4 linked regions of the Homo sapiens genome follow. The protein of the gene in region 4 purifies or fractionates together with the protein of the main gene of each other region. This does not show direct contact. Each region holds a gene or a part of one and is shown on either strand. Other genes may lie near its edges. The genes, in order: NEDD1, POLR2J2, TANGO6 and GPN2.

The links.
Region 1: the proteins of GPN2 (region 4) and NEDD1 purify together in Homo sapiens (affinity purification with mass spectrometry; one large-scale study listed by BioGRID and IntAct). This does not show direct contact.
Region 2: the proteins of GPN2 (region 4) and POLR2J2 purify together in Homo sapiens (co-immunoprecipitation; one large-scale study listed by IntAct). This does not show direct contact.
Region 3: the proteins of GPN2 (region 4) and TANGO6 purify together in Homo sapiens (affinity purification with mass spectrometry; one large-scale study listed by BioGRID and IntAct). This does not show direct contact.

Annotation. Positions count from the first base shown.
Region 1 is NC_000012.12:96,910,257-96,913,823, reverse strand, and holds part of NEDD1 (protein NEDD1), read right to left. Parts: intron 1,102-3,567; coding exon 1,007-1,101; intron 1-1,006. UniProt on the Homo sapiens protein: Required for mitosis progression. Promotes the nucleation of microtubules from the spindle.
Region 2 is NC_000007.14:102,668,811-102,672,986, reverse strand, and holds the start of POLR2J2 (DNA-directed RNA polymerase II subunit RPB11-b1), read left to right. Parts: upstream 1-1,323; 5' UTR 1,324-1,385; coding exon 1,386-1,435; intron 1,436-3,982; coding exon 3,983-4,072; intron 4,073-4,176. UniProt on the Homo sapiens protein: DNA-dependent RNA polymerase catalyzes the transcription of DNA into RNA using the four ribonucleoside triphosphates as substrates. Component of RNA polymerase II which synthesizes mRNA precursors and many functional non-coding RNAs.
Region 3 is NC_000016.10:68,926,980-68,930,546, reverse strand, and holds part of TANGO6 (transport and Golgi organization protein 6 homolog), read right to left. Parts: intron 2,980-3,567; coding exon 2,464-2,979; intron 310-2,463; coding exon 252-309; intron 1-251.
Region 4 is NC_000001.11:26,883,762-26,887,328, reverse strand, and holds part of GPN2 (GPN-loop GTPase 2), read left to right. Parts: intron 1-1,195; coding exon 1,196-1,356; intron 1,357-3,038; coding exon 3,039-3,169; intron 3,170-3,567. UniProt on the Homo sapiens protein: Small GTPase required for proper localization of RNA polymerase II and III (RNAPII and RNAPIII). May act at an RNAP assembly step prior to nuclear import.

The sequences.
Region 1 (3,567 bases), on a different chromosome or scaffold from region 4:
AAATTAAAAAAAAAAGCTATCAACTACCATATCTTTTTATTTAAATCTTATCTTATTTAAAAAAGAAATAGCTTTCAAAGAGTGTGTGACTAGAAATGAAGAAGCCAGTATTATCCTTAATCAGAGGGATTAACTTATAAAACAAAAGGATAGGCTGGGTGTGGTGGCTCATGCCTGTAATCCCAGCACTTTGGGAGGCTGAGGCGGGCGGATCATGAGGTCAGGAGTTCAAGACCAGCCTGGCCAACATGGTGAAACCCCGTCTCTACTAAAAATACAAAAATTAGCCAGGCGTGGTGGTGGGCACCTGTAATCCCTGCCACTTGAGAGGCTGAGGCAGGAGAATCGCTTGAACTGGGGAGGCGGAGGTTGCAGTGAGCTAAGATTGCACCATTGCACTCCAGCCTGGGCAACAGAGCGAGACTCCATCTCAAAAGAAAAAAAAAAAAGGATAAGGCAACAGTACGTAGTGAGAGCTTCATTTAAACGCCCTGGGACCTAAGCTCATTTTGACAAAGCCAACCTGTTTAAGGAGAGTATGGGGGAGGCTCAGACAGGCCCCTCAGTACAGGTGGACAGAATCTGAAGCAGAGAGCTACCATCAGCTGTGAGTCTGTTCCTGATGGTCCTGAGCCCAAGATCAGTAAAGCAGTGCTGTGTCATTAGAGTTTATATGCTCAGGTCAACCTAGTAACCTATGTGGGATATCGTCCTAAAATAGCAGCAACAGAGATCCTCTCCCACTGAGGGAAAATGGAGAAATGAAGTGCCTAGTCAACAAAATTCAAGTCTTCAATTGTTCCCCTATATTCAAAACTATTTTACCTAAAAATACTTTAGTAAGTACACATATCTCATTTTTAAGTGTTACTATATTATTTTGAGCTTAAGTTAAAAATAATGCTTTTAAAAACCTTTATATTTAGTCGCAAGCACCACAATAAGCAATTGCCAGTCAAGCAAAACTAAGATTTTTAAAAGTTTAAAAAAAAAAAAAATCACTTACCCCTTCAGCAAGCTCTAAAAGTGGAACAGGTTTACATTTGCAACTTGAGACAACTATTTTGTCGCCACTGGAAGATGCTGTTACTAAAAAGTTATCTAAATGAGGAGTTATGGAGCATCAAACAATCCATGAACATCTATAGCACTAGACTATTATAAGAATTGCGATTATAAAAGCTAACACACTAAGAAGACAAGCAATGAGTATAGCTTACAGAGTAGCTTTCAAAAATGGCTCACATTACTATTAATAATTACTAAGACTAATTCTCTTTGCTACTACTGCAGGGAAGAACTAGCCTTCTTTCTGGCTCTGCTATCACTCAAAAGCTATTTAACCCACGTGAAATACTACTCTGTTTTCAAAGAGTAGGCCAGAAGGGCTAATTTTATCCTTCAAGAATGAGAGCATGATAAAAGCAGCATCAGCAAATATCAATCAACCTTTTCATCTACAGAAACTGTTCAAGATATTTATTAACCTAGTGCTTGGTAACAATCTAAACTAGGAAGCAAACATCCACACTAGTCTCCTATTTTTCTATTTAAAAAAAAAAAAGGCCTGATATTTTCCCAGAACATGAATTTTTGTGATAGAATGTTTCAATCTTAAATTAAGAATGACTATTACAGTAACTTGCAAATATTTTATAAATATGTATGGTTAAATAGGAATTGTGTTATGAGTTTTAATTTTTAAATAAAATGTAATTTTATTTACCTTCTTTTACACGAATTGTAAATGGAACAATCAGTAAACACAAAACAGTAACTATTTTAAAACTAAAATGATTAAATACAATAATATAACTAAGAATAAGAGTCTGATTTTGAGAGCCATAACAAATTAAAATATCAGAAGTTTAAATCTGTGCTTTTTAGCAATTAAAATCTGTGAGTAAAAGCAATGGAGAAAGGTTAATTAGACACTCAGAATCCCTAACTGCATTAACTTTTGAATGTTCTGTATAACTTTCAGGTATTTTGTAAACAGAGCATAGACTGTAATTTTATTATGATACATGATGCAAATCAAATCATTCCTACCTAGATATTACCATAGCGAGAAAAACCATTTCCCTTTCCTTGACTTCTTCCTGTTTACCACTACTTTTCTCCTTAGAATATAGAAAAAAAAGGACTGAAACATAATGTGGGTGGGTAATCTAGTTCTTTTTTATTTCTCTTGTAGTTTTAGAAATCATGAGAAAGTGAGGAACGTAAGTTAAAGGACAAGAAACAAAAAACTAATCTCTCTGGTGTCTCACATTAACCCCATTCTTGGAATCTATACTATGTGGACCCCAAGTTGCTAAGGCTGGGAACTCCTTGTTCTTCAGTAATTAACCTCCATGGAAGTGATCAAAGCCTTATTAAGAATAAGACTGTATGAAGGCTTTCAGTGCACATCTGCTCATGCAAGAAAACTGTAAGACCAATTTCCAAAAGTCATACAACACTATCTCATAGCTACATCAGTTTTGTTGTTAGACTATTAAGTAGCACATCAGTAAATGCCAACTCCTAGTAAAACTTAAAACAAAAGTCAACCAAAAAATAATCTTACTACAAATTGCTACCTTTCTCTTATATAGTAAGAGGGAAAATTAAGCTCTAAACATAATGAAAATCTAAAAATAGAGAACAGCAACTTCATATACTTGTCGCTCTCTTTAAAATATTTTCCCTATTACACATCTGGAAAGTCCTTCAAAAATGTAGTCACTTCACCATGAGTTTGATTAACAGAGTACCAAAGTAATTTGTTTTACTGCAAAATCAAGGAATGATAAGGAGGTAAATTTAATTCAGTAAGAAAATTTGTCCTTCTTGTTATATACATGCAAGAATAGTAAGTCATATAAAACTTTTAATATTTTTGTTCCTGAACCAGTCACATTTTAAAGCTTTGATTTTTTTATCAGAAAGTAGAATACTTTGGTGTTGATAAAAATCAGATAAATGTTAAATCTTAATTTGTTAAGAAATAGCGTATGAGTTTCACAAAAGAAAATTTCTAACATACCAATTACATAAAACATTTTCACATAAAAGGTGATAGGAGCACTGTGGTCACAGCAGTGGTTCTCTACTGGGAGTGATTCAGGCAATTCTGGAAACGTTTTGGGTTGTCACAACTAGAGGCTATTGGTACCTAACGGGTGAAGACCAATAAACCTCCACGTGGTACAACATACAGGAAAGGTCCACAACAAATTTTCTGCCCCAAAAAGTCAATAGCACAGGGTTCAGAAACCCTAGTTTACAGTCTTCACTCCCTCATTTTATTTTATCCACATTGAGGAGCTCACCAAGACAGGGAAGGTGTCAATCAGAAACATAAAAAGCTTAGAAAAGTTCAATCTAGGTAACTTTACTATGTCTGTTTAGGAAATGTAATTTTCATCACACACACAGAGAGGAAGGAAGATATGGAGAGTACATTAGTAAGATGGAGATATTGGGCAATTTTTTATCTCCTCCCCAACTTGCTTCTGCCTTCAAGTTCTGTCTTTAATTTTCAGTTCAGATCCACAAATACCCAAATGTAGATGCAAAAAC
Region 2 (4,176 bases), on a different chromosome or scaffold from region 4:
TTTCCCGGTCTGCTAAGTAGCGGGTGTTTTTCCTTGACACTAACGCTACCGCTAGACCACGGTGGGCTTGGCAACAGGTGTCTTCCCAGATGCTGGCGTTACCGCTAGACCAAGGAGCCCTCTGGTGGCCCTGTCCGGGCATAACAGAAAGCTTGCACTCTTGTCTTCTGGTCACTCCTCACTGTCCCCTCAGCTCCCATCTCTGTATGGCCTGGTTTTTCCTAGGTTATGATTGTAGAGCGAGGATTATTATAATACTGGAATAAAGAATAATTACTACAAACTAATGATTAATGATTCATATATAATCATATCTAAGATCTATATCTAGTATAACTATTCTTATTTTATATATTTTATTATACTGGAACAGCTCGTGCCCTCGGTCTCTTGCCTCGGCACCTGGGTGGCTTGCTGCCCACATCCACCAAGTGCACTTTGGGAGGCTGAGGCTGGAGGACTGCTGGAGGCCAGGAGTTCAATACCAGCCTGGGCAACATAGGGAGACCCCCCCCCCACCATCTCCAAAAATAAAAAAAAAAATAGCTAAGTGTGATGGCACATGCCTGCAGTCCTAACTATCGGGAGGCTGAGGCAGGAGGATCTCTGGAGCCCAGGAGTTGGAGGCTGCATGATGGCGCCACTGTACTTCAGCCTGGGCGACAGAGGGAGACGCTGTCTCTAAATAATAATAATAATATATAAAAAGATATACGTAACCCTACGGGCTCCCCTCTCACTGCTGTATACACCTGCCTCCTTCTGCATCCCTCACCCAATTGTCCCTCCCGGCTAACAAGCCAGCTGCACCCCCCAGGCAGAGGTCCTGCAGCAGTCGGTATAGGCAGCCTGGGCAGGGGGCTTGTCATAGATCTGCCTCTGGCCACGAGATCTTCTGCTCCCCCTACGGCTGCTAGCCGCAGCTGTCCACTACCCCTTAGCTTTATTCTCTCTATTCAGGGGCCTCCTGCTGCGCACTCCAAGGGGGTGCACGTTTCCAAAGAGAGATCAAGGGACATGGGGAAAGGAGAAAGGTACAGCTTGAGGTTCCCGCTCAGCCAGGACTAGGAGGCCTCTGTAGGGGCAGAACAGCCCTGCTGGCGCTCTGAGCATGCGCCGAAAAGCGCCCACGGGGAAAGCCATGCCGGGGTGCGGGGTGCGGGGTGGGGGGGAGCGGTGCGCTCGCCACTGACGCATGCGCAGAGGCACTGGTCTCTCTCGGGGTTTTCTCGCGCCTGCGCAAGATCCTCCAGCCCAACGGGGGGCGATGAGCCGATCCTTGGGCGGGTTTGCCCCGCCGGAGTAATCCGGAAGAGGCCTCTTATTAGGGCTCTGGTGGCGGCGGTGGCGGACACTTGGGGTCTGGACGCAACGGCGGCGGGAGCATGAACGCCCCTCCAGCCTTCGAGTCGTTCTTGCTCTTCGAGGGCGAGAAGTAAGTGACGCCGGCTGCGGAGGGCCTAGGTGCGCGGGCCTGCGGCTGTCGCATTCTGGGGTGTCTCCTGCCCATCTCTTGCCCCGGGAGGGAAACAGCTTTTGCTTGATCGTCTGCTCGGCCTGTGTCAGCCAAATTTAAGGCCGTTCCGCGAGGCAGTCGCGAGTGTGTCCATGTTGCAGATGAGGACACTGAGGCTTGGAGGCGAGCAAGTTGCCCCGGACACAGGAAGTGGCGGCGCTTGTATTCGAACCCAGAGTGTCTGGTTCTCCATAGCCCTTTTCCTCTGGGATCTGGCAGCTTCCTCTTTTTGTCTCTCGCCCGCCACCTCCATCCTTCATCCCCTCCGATCTGTCAGCGGCCTGCGTAAAAGCCGCAGTGGCTCCTCGCTGCCTGCGGGTTGAAGGAGTCCAGGGGAGAGAGCTTGGGCTCACTCTGTATCTGTGGGCGAGTGGCTTGATCTGTCGGAGGCCCTGTTTCCTCATCTGGAAAATGAGTTTATTACTGTACTTAAACGTGGGATTCAGGCCGGGTGCGGTGGCTGACACCTGTAATCCCAGCACTTTGGGAGCCCGAGGCGGGCGGATCACCTGAGGTCGGGAGTTCAAGACCAGCCTGACCAACATGGAGAAACCCTGTCTCTACTAAAAATACAAAATTAGCCGGGCGTGGTGGCAGATGCCTGTAATCCCAGCTACTCAGAAGGCTGAGGCAGGAGAATCACTTGAACCTGGGAAGTGGAGGTTGAGGTGAGCGGAGATCACGCCATTGCACTCCAGCCTGAGCAACAAGAGCGAAACTCCGTTTCAAAAAACAAAAAAAGGGATCTGGCCAGGTGCGCTGGTTCACGCTTTTAATCCCGGCACTTTGGGAGGCTCAGGTGGGAGGATTGCTTGAGCTGAGCACAGGAGTTCCAGGCTGCAGTGAGCTTTGATCGCATCACTGCACTCCAGCCTGGGCGACTGAGCGCAATCCTGTCTCAAAATAAAAAGAATTGGATGAGGTAATTTGTGTAAAACTCTTGGTCCAAAGCTCAGCCCCTGGAAAACCTCATAACCATTGGCTCTTATTGTTCCCAGGTTGGCGTGCAGAGGTCTTGGTCTGGCCCTTGCCAGCCACTTCGGCCTCCTTTAGAGCAGACTCTCAACTGGGGACCATTTGGCCCCACAAGGGACATGTGGCAATAACTGAGAACATTATTGGTTGTCAAAGGGGGTTATGACTGGAATCTACTGGGTAGAGGTCAGGGATGCTGCTGATGTCCTACAATGTCCACAAGACAGCACCCCACAGGAAAGAATGATGCACCCTAAAATGTGTGTGGTGTCAGCCTGGAGAAACCACCTTAGAAAAAAGGATATTCAACTTGATACCTCTCACCTGTGTGAGATTTTACTGTCAGCATAGTTGCCCTCAAATTGAGTGTGCATTAGAATCACCTGAAGGGCTTCTTAAACCATAGATCCCTGCGCCCCACCTCCAGAGTTCTGGGTCCAGTAAGTGGGAGGTGGGAGACTCTTAACAAGTTCCCAGGGGATTCTGATGCTGCTTATCTGGGAACTGCACTCTGAAAACCCCTTGTCTTGGAAAATCCAATGGAAGTTTCCTGTCTTTGTCCATCTAAGCGTTCACTAAAATCATAGTAAATGCCAGAGCATGACTTGTTTTGGGGAATGGATGGAAGGACTGCACACTCCAGCCAGGGGGATGGTTGCTTTCGGAACTCACAGGGTCAGGACCAGCCTCACCGTGTAACTTCAGGGCCTCTCTTCTTCACCTTTTGGTTGCTTCATTATGTTGGCGTAAGAAGAAAGGAACAGGCCAGGCATGATGACGTGCGCCTGTGGTCCCAGCTACTCAGGAGGCTAAGGCGGGAGGATCACTTTAGCCGAGGAGTTGGAGGCTGCAGTGAGCTATGATCACACCACTGCACTCCAGCCTGGGCAGCAGGAGAGATCATTTGAGGCGAGGAGTTCAAGACCAGCGAGGACAACAAGGCAAAACCCCATCTCTACCGGAAAAAAAAAAGGAGGAATTCAGAAAAGGCCAAGGTTCCATAGACCTGGGGTAGCAGGAAGTAGGGGACCGGGTTGGCGAGGCCTTTATGGGATGAAGAGATTGAGAAAGGCCTTCAGGAAGAGGCAGAGCTTATTTTTCCTTTTTATTTTTATATTTTTGATACAGAGTTCCACTCTGTTGCCCAGGCTGGAGTGCAGTGGCATGATCTCGGCTCACTGCAACTCCACCTCCCAGGTTCAGGTGATTCTCCTGCCTCAGTCTCCCAAGTAGCTAGGACTACAGGCATGGATCACCACACTCAGCTAATTTTTTTTTTTTCTTTGTATTTTTAGTACAGACAGGGTTTTGCCATGTTGGGCAGGCTGGTCTTGAACTTCTGACCTCAGGTCATCCATCCACCTCAGCCTCCCAAAGTGTTGGGATTACAGACACGAGCCACCACACCTGGCCGGGAGGAGACAGGGTTTAGACTCAGGGTGGGAGGAGGGGAGCCCCTGCTCCTCATCTGTGGCCTCTGTGTCTTCCTAGGATCACCATTAACAAGGACACCAAGGTACCCAAGGCCTGCTTATTCACCATCAACAAAGAAGACCACACACTGGGAAACATCATTAAATCGTAAGTTTCCCGTCACAGGCTCTCAGGGGCTATGTTTAATGGGCCCCTCTGGGCAAAGCACAAGTTCCAAGTCTTCCTCAGTCTCTCTGAGCTACAGGAAGTCC
Region 3 (3,567 bases), on a different chromosome or scaffold from region 4:
TAATCTACAGAATATGTAAACATTAATAAAAACTTCCTCATCATTATGAGACACTGAAACTCTATAGGGACTCTTTGGAAACCCTTCAGGAATATTATTATTATGACTTAAAGTGTCCTAGCTAGGAGGCAGGAAGACGGACAAAATGACCAGTAGTCTCCTGGCCCTAGGACTTTAGAGATTTTGTGCAAATAAACATGATACAGTCTCTGGTCCACATACTTAAAGTCCTTTAACCAGGACTGACTTACCCTGAATTGCAGATAGATATACAAAAGTGTCTTCATGTTCCAAGTTTTCCAAGAATATCTGGAACCACAAAATACAGCAGTGATAAGATTTACAAAGAACAAGGAAGATTTAAGAGGCTCCCTTATCAGCAGCTCAAAGGAGTAAATGCTTCGCTTCTTGTTTTTCTTGGGTAGAAACTGGTCTGACAGAGTTTTGTGGGGGAAATGGCATATATGCTTAAGTCTCATTTTTATAACCATTAAAAAAGTATAGAGACTGGGGGAGATACTTGTATTCTTCCAGCAGTAGTCCTGGAAACCGATGGAAGAACAATCCTCAACATTTTTCCATGACAGCCATGGTGAATAACATTCTCACATATGGCATGACAGACTACGGGGTGTGACACACAAGAGACAAGGTTTGGGGTTATGTGCAATGGATGGCACATTTGCTGCAATTTGATCCTTTTCTCTTGTACTCACAAAGCATATGGAAGTGCAAGTGAGATAGAGATGTTATTATTGAGATAACTTTGAATCTGTTCTAATTTATTTTTGAAAATCTTGTAAATTTCAGCACTTTAATTGATATTAGTAACAAATTACTCTCAAAATATCTTACAATTTAGGAACCTATCAGGGGTATCAACTACAGTGAGTACAGCTTATCTGGAAGATATTACATGATATGTTAGGTTTAGGCCCCAACATGAGAGCCAGAGAAAGGAAGACGGAAGTGTCTGCTCCATATATAATGCTGTGTTCTTCGTTGGCACAGTAATTCTTGACATCAACTTGATGCTGCTGGTCTCTACATGTGAAGTATGTACGGAGAGCCTAAAATTACCCCAGTTAGGAAGACGGCCAGTTTTGAAGGTAGGGAATCTTTTATGGAGTAAGCAAGGGAAGCTTAATTTAGGGTAATGGCCATGGAAATAAAGAGGATAAGATACATTTGAAAGACTTCTTTGAAAAAAGAATTGACAGGACTTGGTGACCAATTATGTACAGCAGAAGAAGGTTTAATTAAGCTAAAAAAAATTCCAAGATGTTCATTGAATTCACCTTCAAATAGGTGTATAAAAGGATATTTAAGGCCAGGCGCGGTGGCTCATGCCTGTAATCCCAGCACTTTGGGAGGCCGAGGCAGGTGAATCACTTGATGTGAGGAGTTCAACACCAGCTTGGCTAACATGGTGAAACCTCATCTCAACTAAACGTACAAAAATTAGCTGGGTGTGTTGGTGGGCACCTGTAATCCCAGCTACTTGGGAGGCTGAGGCAGAAGAATCACTTGAACCCAGGAGGTGGAAATTGCAGTGAGCTGAGATCGCACCACTGCACTCCAGCCTGGGCGACGGAGCGAGACCCTGTCTCAAAAAAACAAAACAAAACAAAACAAAAAACAGCTATTTCACCACGATGAAGGGAGAGAAGAGGGGAGGAGACCCAGTTTTGCCCAACGCCCCACTAAAGATGCCCAGAGAAAACAGGTGGCTTATCTGGGCTGGGTCACAGTGTTGAAGCAGACCTATTTATCACAAAAGGTACTTTCCCATCTCTGGGAATTTGTTCAAGCTATCCCACCCCTCTTTCATCTGCTCAAACTTTACTAGTTTGTTATGGCCATATTAAGGCCTACATCCTCCAGAAGATTTCAACTTTCTCTTTTTCCTGACTGCCCACAGCATTTCTTGCATGCAAAAATTTTGAAGGATGGGTGTGGTGGCTCACGCCTGTAATCCCAGCACTTTGGGAGGCCGAGGCAGGTGGATCACGAGGTCAGGAGATCGAGACCATCCTGGCTAACATGGTGCCCGTCTCTACTAAAAATACAAAAAATTAGCCGGGGGTGGTGGCAGACACCTGTAGTCCCAGCTACTCGGGAGGCTGAGGCAGGAGAATGGTGTGAACCCAGAAGGCGGAGCTTGCAGTGAGCCGAGATTGCACCACTGCACTCCAGCCTGGGGGACAGAGCGAGATTCCATCTCAAAAAAAAAAAAAAAAAAAAAAAATTGGCACTCAGTTCATATTCATTTGAGGAGTTTAAGTCTTTCCTGTGTCTAAATAAATCTTTCCTGTGTCTAAGTGTTGCCTCCTCACAAAATTCACAAATTTCTGGAGGGTGGTCCAGAACAGCACTTGACACATAGTCCAGGCTCCAAAAATACTTGAGTTGAATGAATGCCCCACCCTGTGCCCATGTGTCTTTACAGTGTGTTCTACTCACCTTGAGAAGCTTCTCTTGCATCTCAAGGGCTTTTGCTTCTCTCTGCTCTATCCAGTGGGAAAGAGTACGCAGGGCAGCAGCCCGTGTTGGAATTTGAGGGTCATAAGCTGACAAAAGAACCTCTTGGAGCTGTTCTGTGGTTACGCTTCCAGATTTCTGACTTGTAGTAGTGCTGGGCTCATTGACTCCTTGAGGAATGATTGGAGCATTTGACTGCAGGCCTGTCTGGGGGGCTGTCTCATGGCTCTGCTGTTGTTCAAGGTGGCTATGAGCTACATCAGTGGGTCTTTCATGACTGGTTTGTTGCTGCTCTTCTATTTTCCCTTCCAGATCTTTTCTGTTCAGTGTACTTTGGGCAGCCATGCTGACGGCCTCAGTGGCAAAGGCTCCATGGGTAGAGATGGTGATGCGGAGATCAACAGCGAGTTCTTGGATGACCGGATCAGGGTATGTGTTGGATACCTTCTCCAACAGAGGCAACAACTGCTTCAGAACAGCAAAATCACTTGACTTCAACTACAAAATGAAATAAAAAATGTCAAACCCAAATTAACATAGCAAATTTCAATATGACCTGAGCACCAGGAAACATATTCTGAGAAAAAAGGGCAGGGATCAAATCTTGCTCATGGTGTAATCAGTGTATTGCCTGGGTCCAGCACTGAATACCATTTGTTGAATAATCATACCTAACATTTATTGAACACTTATCATATACAGGTTCTTTTCTAAGATAAAACACACACACACACATTCATATCCTTGTGATATAATGACTATTATTATCTACATTTTAAACAGGTGGAAACAGAACGGTTAAGTAACATGCCCAAGGTCACAGACTGGAAGATAGTAAGATGTGAACTCAAGAAACTGGGATCAGAGCCCACACTCTCACCCAATACCCTACGCAGTCTCCCTTGAAAAGATAAGGCTGTTCTTAACTACATGATCTAAAGTGGCCAGTCAGTATGCAAGTGCACCATAGATCTGGAAGGGATCACAGAGAAAACGGGAAGAAAGGGATTTCTTCTGGAAAGTGGAAGTGAAAATTATATAACATTTTATTCTCCATGGAAGCTTTGTCTGAATAATGTCATATGC
Region 4 (3,567 bases):
TCTGGGCAGAAACAGGCCACTAGGGGGAAGTCCAACTTACTTCTTTTAGTGAGAAATGATTTATAAAACTGAATCAGGGACCTCAGCATCATCTAGTCCTTATTTTACATTAAGAAATAACTGGCTCAGAAAAGGAAAGTGATTTACCCAGGAGGCTACCCTGCTAGAATGTAGCATTTATTCAGTTTAACCATTTACAGAGTCTTTGCAGTGTATGTGCCAGGTCCTGAGGGTATGACCTGACTATGAGCTCTGTGAGGTGAGGACGACCATGCACAGTTCTTGGTACATACTTGTTATCATTATTTGCAACTTTTTTTTTTTTTTTTTTTTTTGAGACAGAGTTTCGCTCTTGTTGCCCAAGCTGGAGTGCAATGGTGTAATCTCGGCTCACTGCATCCTCCGCCTCCTGGATTCAAGCGATTCTCCTGCCTCAGCCTCCCGTGTAGCTGGGATTACAGGCATGTGCCACCACGTCCGGCTAATTTTGTATTTTTTTTTCTTTTTTTTTGAGACGGAGTCTTGCTGTGTCGCCCAGGCTGGAGTGCAGTGGCGCGATCTCGGCTCACTGCAAGCTCCCCCTCCTGGGTTCACGCCATTCTCCTGCCTCAGCCTCCTGAGTAGCTGGGACTACAGGCACCCGCCACCACGCCCAGCTAATTTTTTGTATTTTTAGTAGAAACAGGGTTTCATCGTGTTAGCCAGGATGGTCTCGATCTCCTGACCTTGTGATCCGTCCATCTCCCAAAGTGCTGGGATTACAGGCTTGAGCCACCGCACCTGGCCTAATTTTGTATTTTTAGGAGAAATGGAGTTTCACCATGTTGGCTGGTCTTGAACTCCTGACCTCAGGTAATCACCCACCTCGGCTTCCCAAAGTGCTGGGATTACAGGCATGAGCCACCGTGCCCAGCCTGTTTGCAGTTATTGATCAAGCACTTCTCTGTACCAGACACTGGGGTTTATAGCATTTAATCTTCATAACAGTCCTATGAAGTAGATACCTGCCTATATAGCTAGTAAATAGCAGAGCCAGCAGGTAAAACCAAATGCTTTTTTTCTTAGTAACTTCATTTTACTGTGTCAAGAAATATTTGAGTGCATGAGTGCACAAAGGAAAAAAGGAAAAAGGAACCTCGTCCTCAGGTCTTTAGCCTGATACTGGTTGCTCCTGAACACTGGTTTCTCTCTTTAGCCTTCAACCTGGACTACTACACAGAGGTTCTGGACCTCTCCTACCTGCTTGACCACCTGGCTTCTGACCCTTTCTTCCGCCACTACCGCCAGCTCAATGAGAAGCTAGTGCAGCTCATCGAAGACTATAGCCTTGTCTCCTTTATCCCTCTCAACATCCAGGTACTAGGGGCTAAGACGGGACTCTTGACAGTGCATGGGATTCACCAAGCCAAAAGCACAGGAAGCTTTGAGGGCTTAAAGAATGGTCTTTGCCGGCTGGGCGCGGTTGCTCAAGCCTCTAATCCTAGCACTTTGGGAGGCCGAGGTGGGCAGATCATGAGGTCAGGAGATCGAGACCATCCTGGCTAACCCAGTGAAACCCCGTCTCTACTAAAAATACAAAAAATTAGCTGGGCGTGGTAGCAGGTGCCTGTAGTCCCAGCTACTCAGGAGGCTGAGGCAGGAGAATGGCGTGAACCCGTGAGGCAGAGCTTGCAGTGAGCCGAGACCACGCCATTGCTCTCCAGCCTGGGCGACAGAGTGAGACTCCATCTCAAAAAAAAAAAAAAAAAAAGAGTGGTCTTTGCCCTGGGTTGAGTATCACTGAGAGTAACCTTAGTTTCAGGACCAGGGGCTGCTGTAGGGGCAGAATTCCAGTAAAGAGAGTGGACCAAACTTTTGCCCTGTCTATTTTGTGTTGCTGGATCCTCTCTTCACATGTTCTGTCCTCTGTGAAAATGGGTGAGTTCAGAAAGTCATCAGCAAGAAAGTTCACCAGGACCAGGGACAAGTCTCTTAAGCCCTTTCAACTGGGCAACTGTCTGTTGACTTTGCAAAGTGGTACCCAACCCCTGTGCCTCTCACCTTTACCCTGCAGAGATAACCTGGGAGACGCAGGTGCATGTTAGATTCCTTTCTGCAGTGGGTGGACTTGAGCTAACTTGTCTCCTCCCTTCTAATGCCACACTCTTCTGATATGAGGAGATGAACTCTATAATATCAATCACAACAATTACCTCTTATTTATGGCTTTCTGTGCTGGGCACTGTGCTAAGGACTACACATACATAATTTTGCTTTGTCCTTCCCACCATGTGATATATGGACTGTTCTTATCACTGTATGTGGATGAGGAAACAGTTATAGTTTTTTTTTGTTTTGTTTTGTTTTTTGTGACGGAGTCTCACTCTGTCACCCAGGCTGGAGTGCAGTGCGTTATCTTGGCTCACTGCAACCTCTGCCTCCTGGGTTCAACCGATTCTCCTGCCTCAGCTTCCCAAGTAACTGGGATTACAGGCATCCATCACCATGCCCAACTAATTTTTGTATTTTCAGTAGAGACAGGGTTTCACCATGTTGGCCAGGCTGCTCTTGAACTCCTGACCTTAAGTGATCTACCTGCCTTGGCCTCCCAAAGTGCTGGGCTTTACAGGTGTGAACCACCGTGCCTGGCCCAGTTATAGATTTAAAACATGCATATTCATTGGATGTCTACTTAAGAGAAGTACTGTGCCAGGCACTGGGAATACTGCGACAGATGACCTGGCCCTAAGGGGTGTTTAGTTGAGTAGGGGAGGCAGGTGAGTTAATAGGCGTTTATTACATGGCAGGGATACCATGTACAATAGGTGTAAACCCAGGGGACTGTGGATATGCATAGGGGAGCTTATCTGTTCTAATCTGAGTGAGTTGGTGGTCAGGAAACATGAGATTTATCCAGCCTTTGGGGACATGTAGAACTACTCCAGGCCAAGAAAGCTACAGGTACAGAGGCAAGATGGAGGAAGGTGTATTTAGAGATTGCAAGCAGTTTTACATACTTCTGTTTCACTCACAGAACTGTTTCTCTCCTCCCTGCTCAGGACAAGGAGAGCATCCAGCGAGTCCTGCAGGCTGTGGATAAAGCCAATGGATACTGTTTCAGAGCCCAAGAGCAGCGAAGCTTGGAAGCCATGATGTCTGCCGCAATGGGAGCCGACTTCCATTTCTCTTCGTATCCTTGCCAGCTTCCTGGCCATAGCAGAGAGGGTGAGACATGGGACTCAAGAATGGCCACAGGAGGTGCAGTCATCAACCTTGTGGATGACCAATTTCTTTTTTTTTTTTTTTTTTTGAGATGGAGTCTTGCTCTGTCGCCCAGGCTGGAGTGCAGTGGCACGATCTCAGCTCACTGCAAGCTCTGCCTCCCGGGTTCACGCCACTCTCCTGCCCCAGCCTCCTGAGTAGCTGGGACTACAGCCACCCACCACCACGCCCAGCTAATTTTTTGTATTTTTAGTAGAGACGGGGTTTCACTGTGTTGGCCAGGATGGTCTTGATCTCCTGACCTTGTGATCCACCCAATTTCTTTTTTCTTTTTTTTTTTTGAAAGGGAGTTTCGCTCTTGTTGCC